3 linked regions of the Homo sapiens genome follow. Changing the gene in region 1 together with any one later gene gives a genetic interaction. Each region holds a gene or a part of one and is shown in the gene's direction. Other genes may lie near its edges. The genes, in order: FH, PDSS2 and COPE.

The links.
Region 2: changes in FH (region 1) and PDSS2 together harm fitness less than expected from each alone (positive genetic interaction), as found in Homo sapiens cells (one large-scale study listed by BioGRID).
Region 3: changes in FH (region 1) and COPE together harm fitness more than expected from each alone (negative genetic interaction), as found in Homo sapiens cells (one large-scale study listed by BioGRID).

What each region holds. Positions count from the first base shown.
Region 1 is NC_000001.11:241,513,116-241,516,767, reverse strand, and holds part of FH (fumarate hydratase, mitochondrial), read left to right. Parts: intron 1-3,054; coding exon 3,055-3,165; intron 3,166-3,652. UniProt on the Homo sapiens protein: Catalyzes the reversible stereospecific interconversion of fumarate to L-malate. Experiments in other species have demonstrated that specific isoforms of this protein act in defined pathways and favor one direction over the other.
Region 2 is NC_000006.12:107,151,932-107,155,586, reverse strand, and holds the end of PDSS2 (all trans-polyprenyl-diphosphate synthase PDSS2), read left to right. Parts: intron 1-809; coding exon 810-968; 3' UTR 969-3,025; downstream 3,026-3,655. UniProt on the Homo sapiens protein: Heterotetrameric enzyme that catalyzes the condensation of farnesyl diphosphate (FPP), which acts as a primer, and isopentenyl diphosphate (IPP) to produce prenyl diphosphates of varying chain lengths and participates in the determination of the side chain of ubiquinone.
Region 3 is NC_000019.10:18,898,950-18,902,475, reverse strand, and holds the end of COPE (coatomer subunit epsilon), read left to right. Parts: intron 1-2,026; coding exon 2,027-2,095; intron 2,096-2,528; coding exon 2,529-2,603; intron 2,604-2,749; coding exon 2,750-2,797; 3' UTR 2,798-2,962; downstream 2,963-3,526. UniProt on the Homo sapiens protein: The coatomer is a cytosolic protein complex that binds to dilysine motifs and reversibly associates with Golgi non-clathrin-coated vesicles, which further mediate biosynthetic protein transport from the ER, via the Golgi up to the trans Golgi network.

The sequences.
Region 1 (3,652 bases):
GACAGGAGAATTGCTTGAACCCGGGAGGCGGAGGTTGCAGTGAGCTGAGATCGCACCACTGCACTCCAGCCTGGCGACAGAGTGAGACTCCGTCTCAAAAAAAAAAAAATTAATTTAATTTTAAGTTCCGGGATACACATGCAGGATATGCAGTTTTGTTGCATAGGTAAATGTGTGCCATGGTGGTTTGCTGCACCTCTCAACCCATCACCTAGATATTAAAACCCGGCATTAGCTATTTTTTCTGCTGCTCCCCCTCCGCCCACAGGCCCCTGTGTGCTTTGTTCCCCTCCTTGTGTCCATATGTTCTCATTGTTCAGCTCCCACTTACAAGTGAGAACATGCGGGTTTGGTTTTCTGTTCCTCTGTTAGTATGCTGAGGGTCACAGCTTCTAGCTCCATCCATATCTCTGCAAAGGACATGATCTCATTCTTTTTTATGGTTGCATAATATTCCATGGTGGATATATACAACTTTTTCTTTATCCTTTATTGATGGACATTTGGGTTGATTTCATGTCTTTGCTATTGTGAATAGTTATTTTGGATTTTTATTTGGCAGAACTAAATGATTGTCTTTTCACTCTTGCTGGGTATTTACAGATTTTTACTAGGGTTCTACAGTTTGTAAATATTTTTATTTCAATACTCATTCTTTTTTCCCCCACTAATTTAAAACTGAGATTTTTTAAAATTACACTTTGTATTTTGGTTTCAGTTTCCTAAAAAGTGTATAGTACACAAACACATCAAAGTATTACTCTTAACCATGTCTGACATATAATAGATAATATATAAGTATTTATTCAATTCCATATGAATGATTAAATGATGAGAAAACTTTCTACCACATTCAATTAAATTTAAGATGCCATTAATTAGAAGATGCACCAATAGGCACCACTAAGAAAGAAAAATGCTACCAATTAAGGTTGTGACTTACCATTGATTACAAGATACATCTTGATTTCAGAGATGTTAAAGTGTGAAAAGAATTGAGAAATGCATAACATATTCTACGGGAGCCCAACCGGAGTATGAAAAATAGTCAATGCAGGATAGGCTAGTAAGCCTAGAAGTAGATAGGCTTCATCCTGTGAGATATTGTTTAACACTTATCTTATAAATATGCTTTTATTTTCAATAATTTTAAGTCATTCCTAAGCCTTCAAGACTGCCTCTTGACAGGTATATAGAACTTTACAACAGGCAGCTGAATCTTTGATGAGAATATCTTTGTCATTGCCATCTACAGCCTTCTTGGTGGTGAGGTAAACATAGTTTGACTACGTGGTTAGGTGAAAAAGGGTAGTGACCAATCCTAAAATAATCTCATATTATTCAACTCCAGAGACTAAGGAGGAGGTCAGCCCCAGCTAGTGTTGGTGGGAGTGAGCATGGCTGCCGTTTTCATTGATCTGTGTCACCAGCATGTTTTGTGGTTCTGGTGGGGCATGGTTCCTGCTGCTGCTGCTCCAGAGACAGCACAGCCATTGGGATTGCACACCTGTGAAAGGCAGACACCTGGGGTCTCGATTTTGTCATACTTTCTGAACTTTATTATGTGTAAAACAGTCTGTATGTACTCTAAACTGAGTAGTATGATTAAACTCAACCCTTTTTACTTGAGGTCCAGAGGAAAACAAAGCTAAAAAGATTATGAACATCTAATGTGAATAAATTAAGAATAAAGTGACCTGTCTTTTCTCTCTAGTGATACATTTTGCCATTTTATGGTGTTCGTTGAACCTCTTTCTGCTGTGAATGACCCTTTTTTATTTTTATGGTCCATAAACACTGGGGGTCATTCACTCCATTCAGATGGCCAGCGTTGATTGGCATTCACCTTTGCCCTTGGTAGTGGTTCAGCCCACTACCTCAGTGTTTGTTACTGTGGAGATTTAAATTCCCATTTGTTTTTGTGTTTAAAGTTTTTAAGTTTCTAATCCTGTGTGCCATCTGTCCTCATTTCGTTTGAGTCAAACGTTTCTAATGTTTTAATTTTAGTTACTTAAAATTGAAATTTCAAATTTTCTGGTTTTCCTTTTCTATTTGACCCTCAGCTTATACTTACTCTGGTCCAGGTTTATGTTTTTAATGTGTCTTATTTCTTACTTTTCTTGGCTTTTTCTACTTTGATTCCAGAGATAGCAGGTTCTCTCTTATACATTCATCATTCTCTTCCTTTCTTCCCTTTCTCCCTTCTACTCTTTCCCCATTCAAACCTGGTGTGGGATCTATACAACAATCTGTATTATTAATTTTGACAAGAACTCACAATTCACTTGTCTTATAAAAACTAGGTTTTCATTTCAGTTTATCCTTTTCAAGCTTGGTGAGGTGATTTGGGATAGACAATGAAAATATCTGCATTAATGGGGTTTTATATATATCGGAAGCTGTCACCTTTAGGTCTGGAGAATCTTGGGTTTAAAAAAATAATTCTTCTGAGAGAAATGTCCAGGGAGTTACTGAGTATTAAGGCTTTACTAGCTAAGTAGAATAGATTGCTTTTTGGCCTTGGGGTGAAATGATAACCCAGTCAGTCACTGGTAGTCTCATACTGATTGGCAGTTAAATATATCCCTTATTTATTTATTTTTTTAAGAGGGGAAGGAAACAATTATAATGTAACGTGGGATCCAGTAAGAGAAAATAATGGTTCTTGCTGGTGAAAAGATTGAGTACTAAATTTGTTTTTATTTATAGTATATGAAATAAACACATATAATTTATTGTGTGTATTTGTGCATAGGATTGTATTCGTGTGAATATGTGTGTATATGTATGTGGGAGACGTACACACATATATATATGAAGAGTCAATGTATTTGTTTTTATTTGGTTCCTTAAACAAATAGATCTATGATAATGTTGATTCTTGGTTCATGAATTCCTGTCTATAATCTTTCTCTATAACCGAAACATTTTAGAGCTATAGTGTTACTGTTTTATTGTTATTGTTTTATGTATAGCTTTTGCATCTGCCAAAATAATAAACTTCCATGCTTAAGTAAAATTGTAAATTTGAAATATTTTTCTGATTAATTTTAGACCCCAGTTATTAAAGCTTTTGGCATCTTGAAGCGAGCGGCCGCTGAAGTAAACCAGGATTATGGTCTTGATCCAAAGATTGCTAATGCAATAATGAAGGCAGCAGATGAGGTAGGAGGTGATAAGTGTGTTTGCTTAATAACCTCAGACCCATGCCATACTCTGGATGACGATATGCTCTGGCAGAAGGAAAGGGGAACTGTGAATTCTTGAATTAATGAATTTCAGGGGAGGGTGGTAGCATTATTTTTAGTGGTGATATTAATATGGTGCTTAAAACGTTACATTGTGACAAAATTTCTGGATGATTTTATACCTTTTGTTTTTAAGCCTTTTGACTTTCCTTAATTTATATAGTTTTAAGAAAATTTTTTGAAAAGATATCATTTGAACTTTACTTGATTTTTTATTTTATATATAAATCTTTTTAAAACCAGTTGATTATTTGATAATGCATATTGAGAATGTAATTTTACTAATATGCTAATAACATTGTCTTAAAGAAGCAATCAGAGGTAACAGAACTGTATATATAGTGTTGTTAATTACAGCACTATTTATAATAATGAAAACAAATTAGACAATGCGTAACTATAAC
Region 2 (3,655 bases), on another chromosome or scaffold:
AAAAAGTAACATTCAGATCTAATACTATGTGTCTTTCTTGAATTTTCATATGGACTATTGTGTCAACATATGGTGTTAAAAAAAAAGTTATTAACTAAGATATTAGTGAAGCCTTCCTCACATAAGAATATCAGGCTGCTGGCCAGGTGCGGTGGCTCACACCTGTAATCCCAGCACTTTGGGCAGCCTAGGCAGGTGGATCACTTGAGGTCAGGAGTTCGAGACCAGCCTGGCCAACATGGCAAAACGCTGTCTCTACTAAAAAATACAAAAATTAGATGGGTGTGGTGGCGCATGCCTGTAGTCCCAGCTATGTGGGAGGCTGAGGCAGGAGAATTGCTTAAACCCAGGAGGCGGAGGTTGCAGTGAGCCGAGATCGCACCACTGCACTCCATCCTGGGCGACAGAGCGAGACTCCATCTCTTTAAAAAAAAAAAAAAAAAAGGGAAGAATATCAGGCTGCTGAATTCAAAATGCCAGAGATGTAAATGCCCTCCGCCTTCTTACTGCCATCCCCCAGCATGGCACATTTCAAGATATTAAGGGATGGGAGTCAGGAGGAGCTGTAATTAAGCTGATTGGAACCTATTGTGCTGCTCTGGAGCACAGACACCAAGCAGCCTTAGGGAATGAGTGCCTCAAGATCACTGGGAAATGATGTCCTCTTTTCCAGAAAATAACGTAGCAGAAATACTCAATCTATACTATTTCTCCCTTTCTTTGTTTTCCATCTCCCCTCCCCAATTTAATTGTGGTGCTTACTGTGTACCTTTAAAACTGACTTTTATCATGCATTTGTTTCTTAACAGTTGCGAGAAAGAATCAAAGCTGGCAAAGGTGTGACTTCAGCTATTGACCTGTGTCGTTACCATGGAAACAAGGCACTGGAGGCCCTGGAGAGCTTTCCTCCCTCGGAGGCCAGATCTGCTTTAGAAAACATTGTGTTTGCTGTGACCAGATTTTCATGACATCAAATTAAAAAGACACTATTGTTAGTTAGCTGAAAATCCTAGGGAATGAGGTTGATTGGGAGCGCTTTCACGATGCGTTAATGACTTTTAAAACATATGCATTTTTCCTTCCTTTTATCACATTGCTAAATGAGTTCTGCTTTCTTTTTGGAACTGCTACAAACAAAATTAGAAGAAAAAAAGGTCAAGCAGTTTTCACTTGTCACGCCAGAAGCACACTTGAGGCTGCAGTCGCAGAAATAATTAATGAGATTCGCTCCTGTGACCTCAGCAAATGGACAGGAAATAAGTCCTTATTGATTGGACCGAGCCAGGGATGGCGCCAGGGCGGTGGCCTGTGGTTTTTCCTGCTAGAGAGGACAAAGCAAGTTGGAAGCTGCAGGTGTCAAGAGAAATGCTCTCAATACCAACCAGGGAGGATTGTCTAATCAAAAACTAGTGACCAATTTGTCATAATGGAGAGTAGTTCAATGGATTGAGAAAAATATGTTTTATTTGTTGGCTTGTAATTATGTCTCTGGATTATTATTATTTTTTTTTTAGATGTAGTTTTGCTCTTGTTGCCCAGGCTGGAGTGCAATGGTGCAGTTTTGACTCACTGCAACCTCCGCCTCCTGGGTTCAAGTGATTCTCCTGCCTCAGCCTCCCGAGTAGCTGGAATTACAGGCACCTGCCACCACGCCTGGCTAATTTTGTATTTTTAGTAGAGATGGGGTTTCACTATGTTGGTCAGGCTAGTCTCGAACTCCTGACCTCAGGTGATCCGCCTGCCTCGGCCTCCCAAAGTGCTGGGATTAGAGGCTTGAGCCACTGCACCTGGCCTCATGTCTCTGGATTTATAATGCAGTATGAATATACTTTGTGCTTTATGGTTTTTATAATGTCTTTTTGGAGAAATTGCCGAAAAGTTGCCAAATACTTGAAGTAGGAGATTAAAATGTTATCAAATGTTAAATTGGTTATATTAGGAATAGTCTGTTTTTCTTTCCTGAAGATCAGTTTTTTTATTCAAACACATTTCAAAGAACCAAATTTTTTTTTTCTTTAAGGAAAAAGGAGCTTTTTTTCAAGTGAAATGTATTCATTTGTAATACTTTGGTTTAAGGCATACTTTAATTTTTACGAGTTTCAGAAACAGAATTTTTGTACTAGGGAATTCATTGGTGAGAGTGTTCTTTTAACCTCAGAATGTCAAATTTTGGTCTTGAACCACAGACATCCAATTACAGAAAGAATATAAGCAATCTCACAGGCCTGCAATCGGACACTGTCTCTGTGTGGTTCATAGGAGATGATTTTTGAGGTTTGCACTCATGCAATTTGAGAACACCGTTGACAAGAAGGCTGAGTTTACATAAATGATCTAGATTGAAACTCAGCTACCTTTCTTCCTCATGTGGTGTAATTACAGCCCTATCTGGAGACAGCGAATACAGCAAACAGATTTTATTACCTAGTTCGCTCAAACACTACATGAAGTTATTTTAGTTAAAGCCCTCCCCCAAAAGTTATAAAACCATTTTATCAGGGCCCAACATGTGGCATGCAATGAAGAGAAAATGTAAAGCTACAGAGGTTAATGTATTGTATTATAAAATATTTTAAGTGTACTCAAAATATCATAATTGTACAGTTTATGCCACCATAATTTGAGGCCTATAGATTTAGCTTAAGAGAACACTGTTCTGTTTGAAATGCTTTCTGTCACTGAAATTGGCTTAATTAGTAACCATGGATAAGATGCTTTAGATCAGACTAGGTTTTAATCATTAACTTCCACAAAGAAGTCATACTTTGCGTTAGGTGTGCTGGTTGGATGTGCAGGAACTTCAGCAAGCAGTAGGTTTTACTAAGCAGATGGTCGGGCACTGCAGGGCACCAGGCAGGATCCTAGGGCGCCTCTTATTCTGCGTTAGCATCTGGTTTGCTGTATGACCTTGCACAAGTCACTTCCTTCTGAGCCTCAATTTTCTCATCTGTACAATGAGATTCAAAAGTTGACCTGAAAGTCAAGTGTGAAAAAAAAAAAGAGATTAAACAAGATAATTATGAAATTCTTTCCAGGTTTGTTTTATTTTCTGAAAGTTTACTATTCTTGACTGTCTAAATAGCAAAGATGCTGTGTGAGGTTCAGGGAGGAGGGAAGGTGAAACCCAAAGAGAGGCCCTGAAGGAATGGAGAGAGCTTAATGGCAAGCTTCCTGCCAAGCTGCCTCTGCATGACCTAAAGGATTCCAGCTCTCCTATGTGACATGTAACCCTGGACTTTTCTGTCTCAACACCTGCCTTGCTGCTTTCTTCGGGACCTTTCCTACCTCCCTGTCATCTTCCCAGCTGCTCTCGTGTCCTTTATCCCATCTCCTGTACCTTGCCATCCTGACTCCCTGGAACCTGGATCCCTGGGAGCAGTAGCCCCCTGCTGCCTGCTGAGTGACAGAGCTCTGCCTCCCCCACAGGGGTGGCTGGCCTCCTTCCTCAGGCCCCACTTAGCAGAATTCTCACTTCCTCAGCATCACGGCAGGCTTTTACAGAACATAACAAGTTGGCTAGTTCACTCCAAAATACAAGACCAATAGCCTTTCTCCCTGCCCCTTCTTCAGGGATATTTATTTCTTAGCACATATGAAGTTCTTATAGTTTCAGACAATCTCTAAGGAGAAATTTGGGGCACTGAAACATTCCTCA
Region 3 (3,526 bases), on another chromosome or scaffold:
TCAGGCTGGTCTCAAACTCCTGACCTCAGGTGATCCACCCGCCTCAGCCTCCCAAAGTGCTGGGATTATAGGCGTGAGCCACCACGCCTGGCCATCTGCAGTCTTTATGAAGAGTTTATGTTATGTTAAATTAAAAATATATATATATTTTGTAAAGACGGGGTTGTTCTTGCTGTGTTGCCCAGGTTGGTCTCGAACTCCTGGCCTCAAGTGATCGTCCCACCTCAGCCTCCCAAAGCATTAGGATTATAGGTGTGAGCCACCATGCTTGGTGGATTTTTTTTTTTTTTTTTTTTGAGATGGAGTCTTGCTCTGTCGCCCAGGCTGGAGTGCAGTGGTGTGATCTCGGCTCACTGCAAGCTCTGCCTCCTGGGTTCATGCCATTCTCCTGCCTCAGCCTCCCGAGTAGCTGGGACTACAGGCGCCCACCACCATGCCCAGCTAATTTTTTGTATTTTTAGTAGAGATGGGGTTTTGCTGTGTTAGCCAGGATGGTCTCAATCTCCTGACCTCATGATGCTGCCCACCTTGGACTCCCAAAGTACTGGATTACAGGCGTGAGCCACTGTGCCCAGCCTGGATTATTATTTTTATAATCAGAAAGGACATCAAAGCTTTTTCCATTTTGGAGAAACGAATTTTGGGGGGTTTTTTGTTTGTTTTTTGAAACGGTATGCCACCATGCGTGGCTAATTTTTGTATTTTTTGTTAGAAATGGGGTCTCACTGTGTTGTCCAGGTTAGTCTTGAACTCCTGGGCTCAAACAATTCTCACCCTCCTTGGCCTTCTAAAGTGCTGGGATGATAGACATGCGCCAGTGCGCCCAGCTGAGAAACAGTTTTAATCTAGTGACAAACACTGGTGAAGCCCTCCTCCCTGTCTGACTTTCCAGGGGCTGAGTTATCATCAGAAAGTTGTTTGCAGAGCGGGGCTGGCCAAGGGGTATCAGGCTGGCCCCATCACAGGCCGGGTACTGCTCCTCCTGAGCAGGGTCCATCTTTAGCTCTGAGCAGTCAGGGCTAGTCAGGAACTCCCAGCCTGATGTGCAATCTCAGACAGGCTGTGTGTCCCTCGCTGCCCCAGGGGCAAGACTGGCGCCCTCCTCCACCACCCTGCCCCTCCCTGCCACCTGAGAACACTTGGATGCATGTTGTGTTCATGGCCGCATCCTCTGGGGGCTTTTGTTACACCTCTCAGGTGACACGTTCCGTGACTCACCAGTTAGATGACTCCCTTCTGTCCTTGTCTCTTGAAACACCACCTGGGGCTGGCTGGCCGTGCCCCTTGGCCCTGGTGGCCTCCCCGTGGCTGTGGTCACCCTGCATTCTTGCTGGGTTTTGGGAGGCACTCAGGTCCCCCCACTTCCCTTTGGAGCCACCTCATGGCTGCTCCTGTGAGCGCAAGCTGGTGTCCCCCTTCATGGTGGAGACTGAGGCTCAGAAAAGTCCGGTCTGCAAAAAGGTGCCCTGCCATGGGCCGCCGTGGGCAGGTCGGGCTCTGGGCGCATCCTCGTTGGTGTGTCTGTGCTCCAAGCAGACACCAGGGCTCTGGCTGGGTCTCCTGGCCTAGATGTTTCCTAGGGTCCTGTGTGCTGGGAGCCTAGAGTGAGTGAGTCAGGCAAGGTCCCCTGCCGAGGTCTCCTTCAAGGCTCCTTGGGAGCTGGTGCAGGGGTGGCAGGTCTGCCCATGGCCTCGGGGTTCGTTGTACAGCAGGAGTTGAGGCCATCTGGGTCTGGGCCCCATGGCTTTGAGATGTGTGGGACAAATACAACCTTCCCAAGTCTCTGTAAACAAGGGGTCGTACCCCAGGCTGGACTACAGATGGGGAAACTGAGGCTCAGCGAGGCGGCTGGCCCCTTGGCACCGTATCATCTGAGATCTCCACCTTGCAGAGCGGTGGGCGGTGTCAGTCCCACCCCACCTCTGAGGAGGTGACCTTGTGTGGTGCTGCCTGAGGTGGGGGTGACGGGCAGGCATGGGGGCTGGAGTGGCTGACCCTGCCTCCCCGTGTCTGCCTGTGTCTCCAGGATAGTGGCTACCCAGAGACGCTGGTCAACCTCATCGTCCTGTCCCAGCACCTGGGCAAGCCCCCTGAGGTAAGCGGCCCCCAGGGCTCCAGGCCAACCCTAATGTCCAGACCCTGGGACCCCAGCCTGGGGTCCAGGCCCTAATCCCTAGGCCCCTGGGAAAACTCTGTATACAGTATGCCTACCGCAGCCCACCTCCCTCACAAACCCTGTGCCCCCCAACCCATCCTCACCTGGGGCCCTGCCCGACCTGCTCCCCTGAACACCACAATACATCCCCCACCATGTACGGAGGCCAGCTCCATGCCAGCGCCTCTCCAGGGGGCAGGCCCATCCCTCCACCCCCACCCTGAAGGTTCTCCGAGATCAGCCCAGTCCCAAGGCAGGGTGAGGAGCCCCCTGGGGTACTGTGGCTCTCACCCCAATCCACCCCTGTCCAGCAGGTCAGAGCCACCGTGGGGTCCCCGTGTTCGGCTCACCTGCCTCCCTGCCTCCCCTGCAGGTGACAAACCGATACCTGTCCCAGCTGAAGGATGCCCACAGGTCCCATCCCTTCATCAAGGAGTACCAGGCCAAGGTGAGTGGTGGGGATGGCCTGTCCCCGAGAACCAGGCCAGGGGGCGCCTGGAGCTCAGCCTGGGCTCACATGCGCCCTCTCTCTCTCCCTCCACCTGTCTCCCCACACCCTGCCCCCACCCTGTGTTGCCATGTGTCTTGCTAAAGGAGAACGACTTTGACAGGCTGGTGCTACAGTACGCTCCCAGCGCCTGAGGCTGGCCCAGAGCTGTCAGGACCATGAAGCCAGGACAGAGGCCAGGAGCCAGCCCTGCAGCCCTCCCCACCCGGCATCCACCTGCATCCCCTCTGGGGGCAGGAGCCCACCCCCAGCACCCCCATCTGTTAATAAATATCTCAACTCCAGGGTGTTCCACCTGATGATGTGCTCTGGTCACTTTGCTGGGGGCGTGTGGGAGCTGACGCTCAGGGAGAGTCCTGGGGCACTGGCATCCAGGGCTGTTCCTGGAGACCAGGGTCTGTGACGAGCAGCAGGTGTGCAGACCCCCACCCCGCCCCTCACACAGCCACAACCTGCTCCTGCAGGCCAGAGGCAGCACAGCCCTGTCCCCATGCTTCACCCTGGCCCCTAGAGGCCACTGAGCAGCCCTGGTTGGCATCGGGGGAAACTGAGGCACAGAGAAGTCATGCCGCTATCATGAGGGGCACCAAGATTCAAAATGAGAACCCCTAGTGGCCTGGAGGAAGTGGGGGCCAGGGCAGGAAAAACTCAGGCCTCAGCTCAGCAAAGCCGGAGGGGCCCTGCAGGGTCAGCGTTAACCCCAGGTGCTGCTCCTGCCGCCCCGCAAACCCTCCTCCAAGGCAGAGTCCTGCTGTGGCAGGGTCCTGGGGCCAAGCACCCAGCCGCGATGAGAGGCGGCCGCACCATTTAGGGAGGGAGGTGGGTGGGTGGCAGCAGGGCTGGCCGGAGCCTCCCAGATGTCA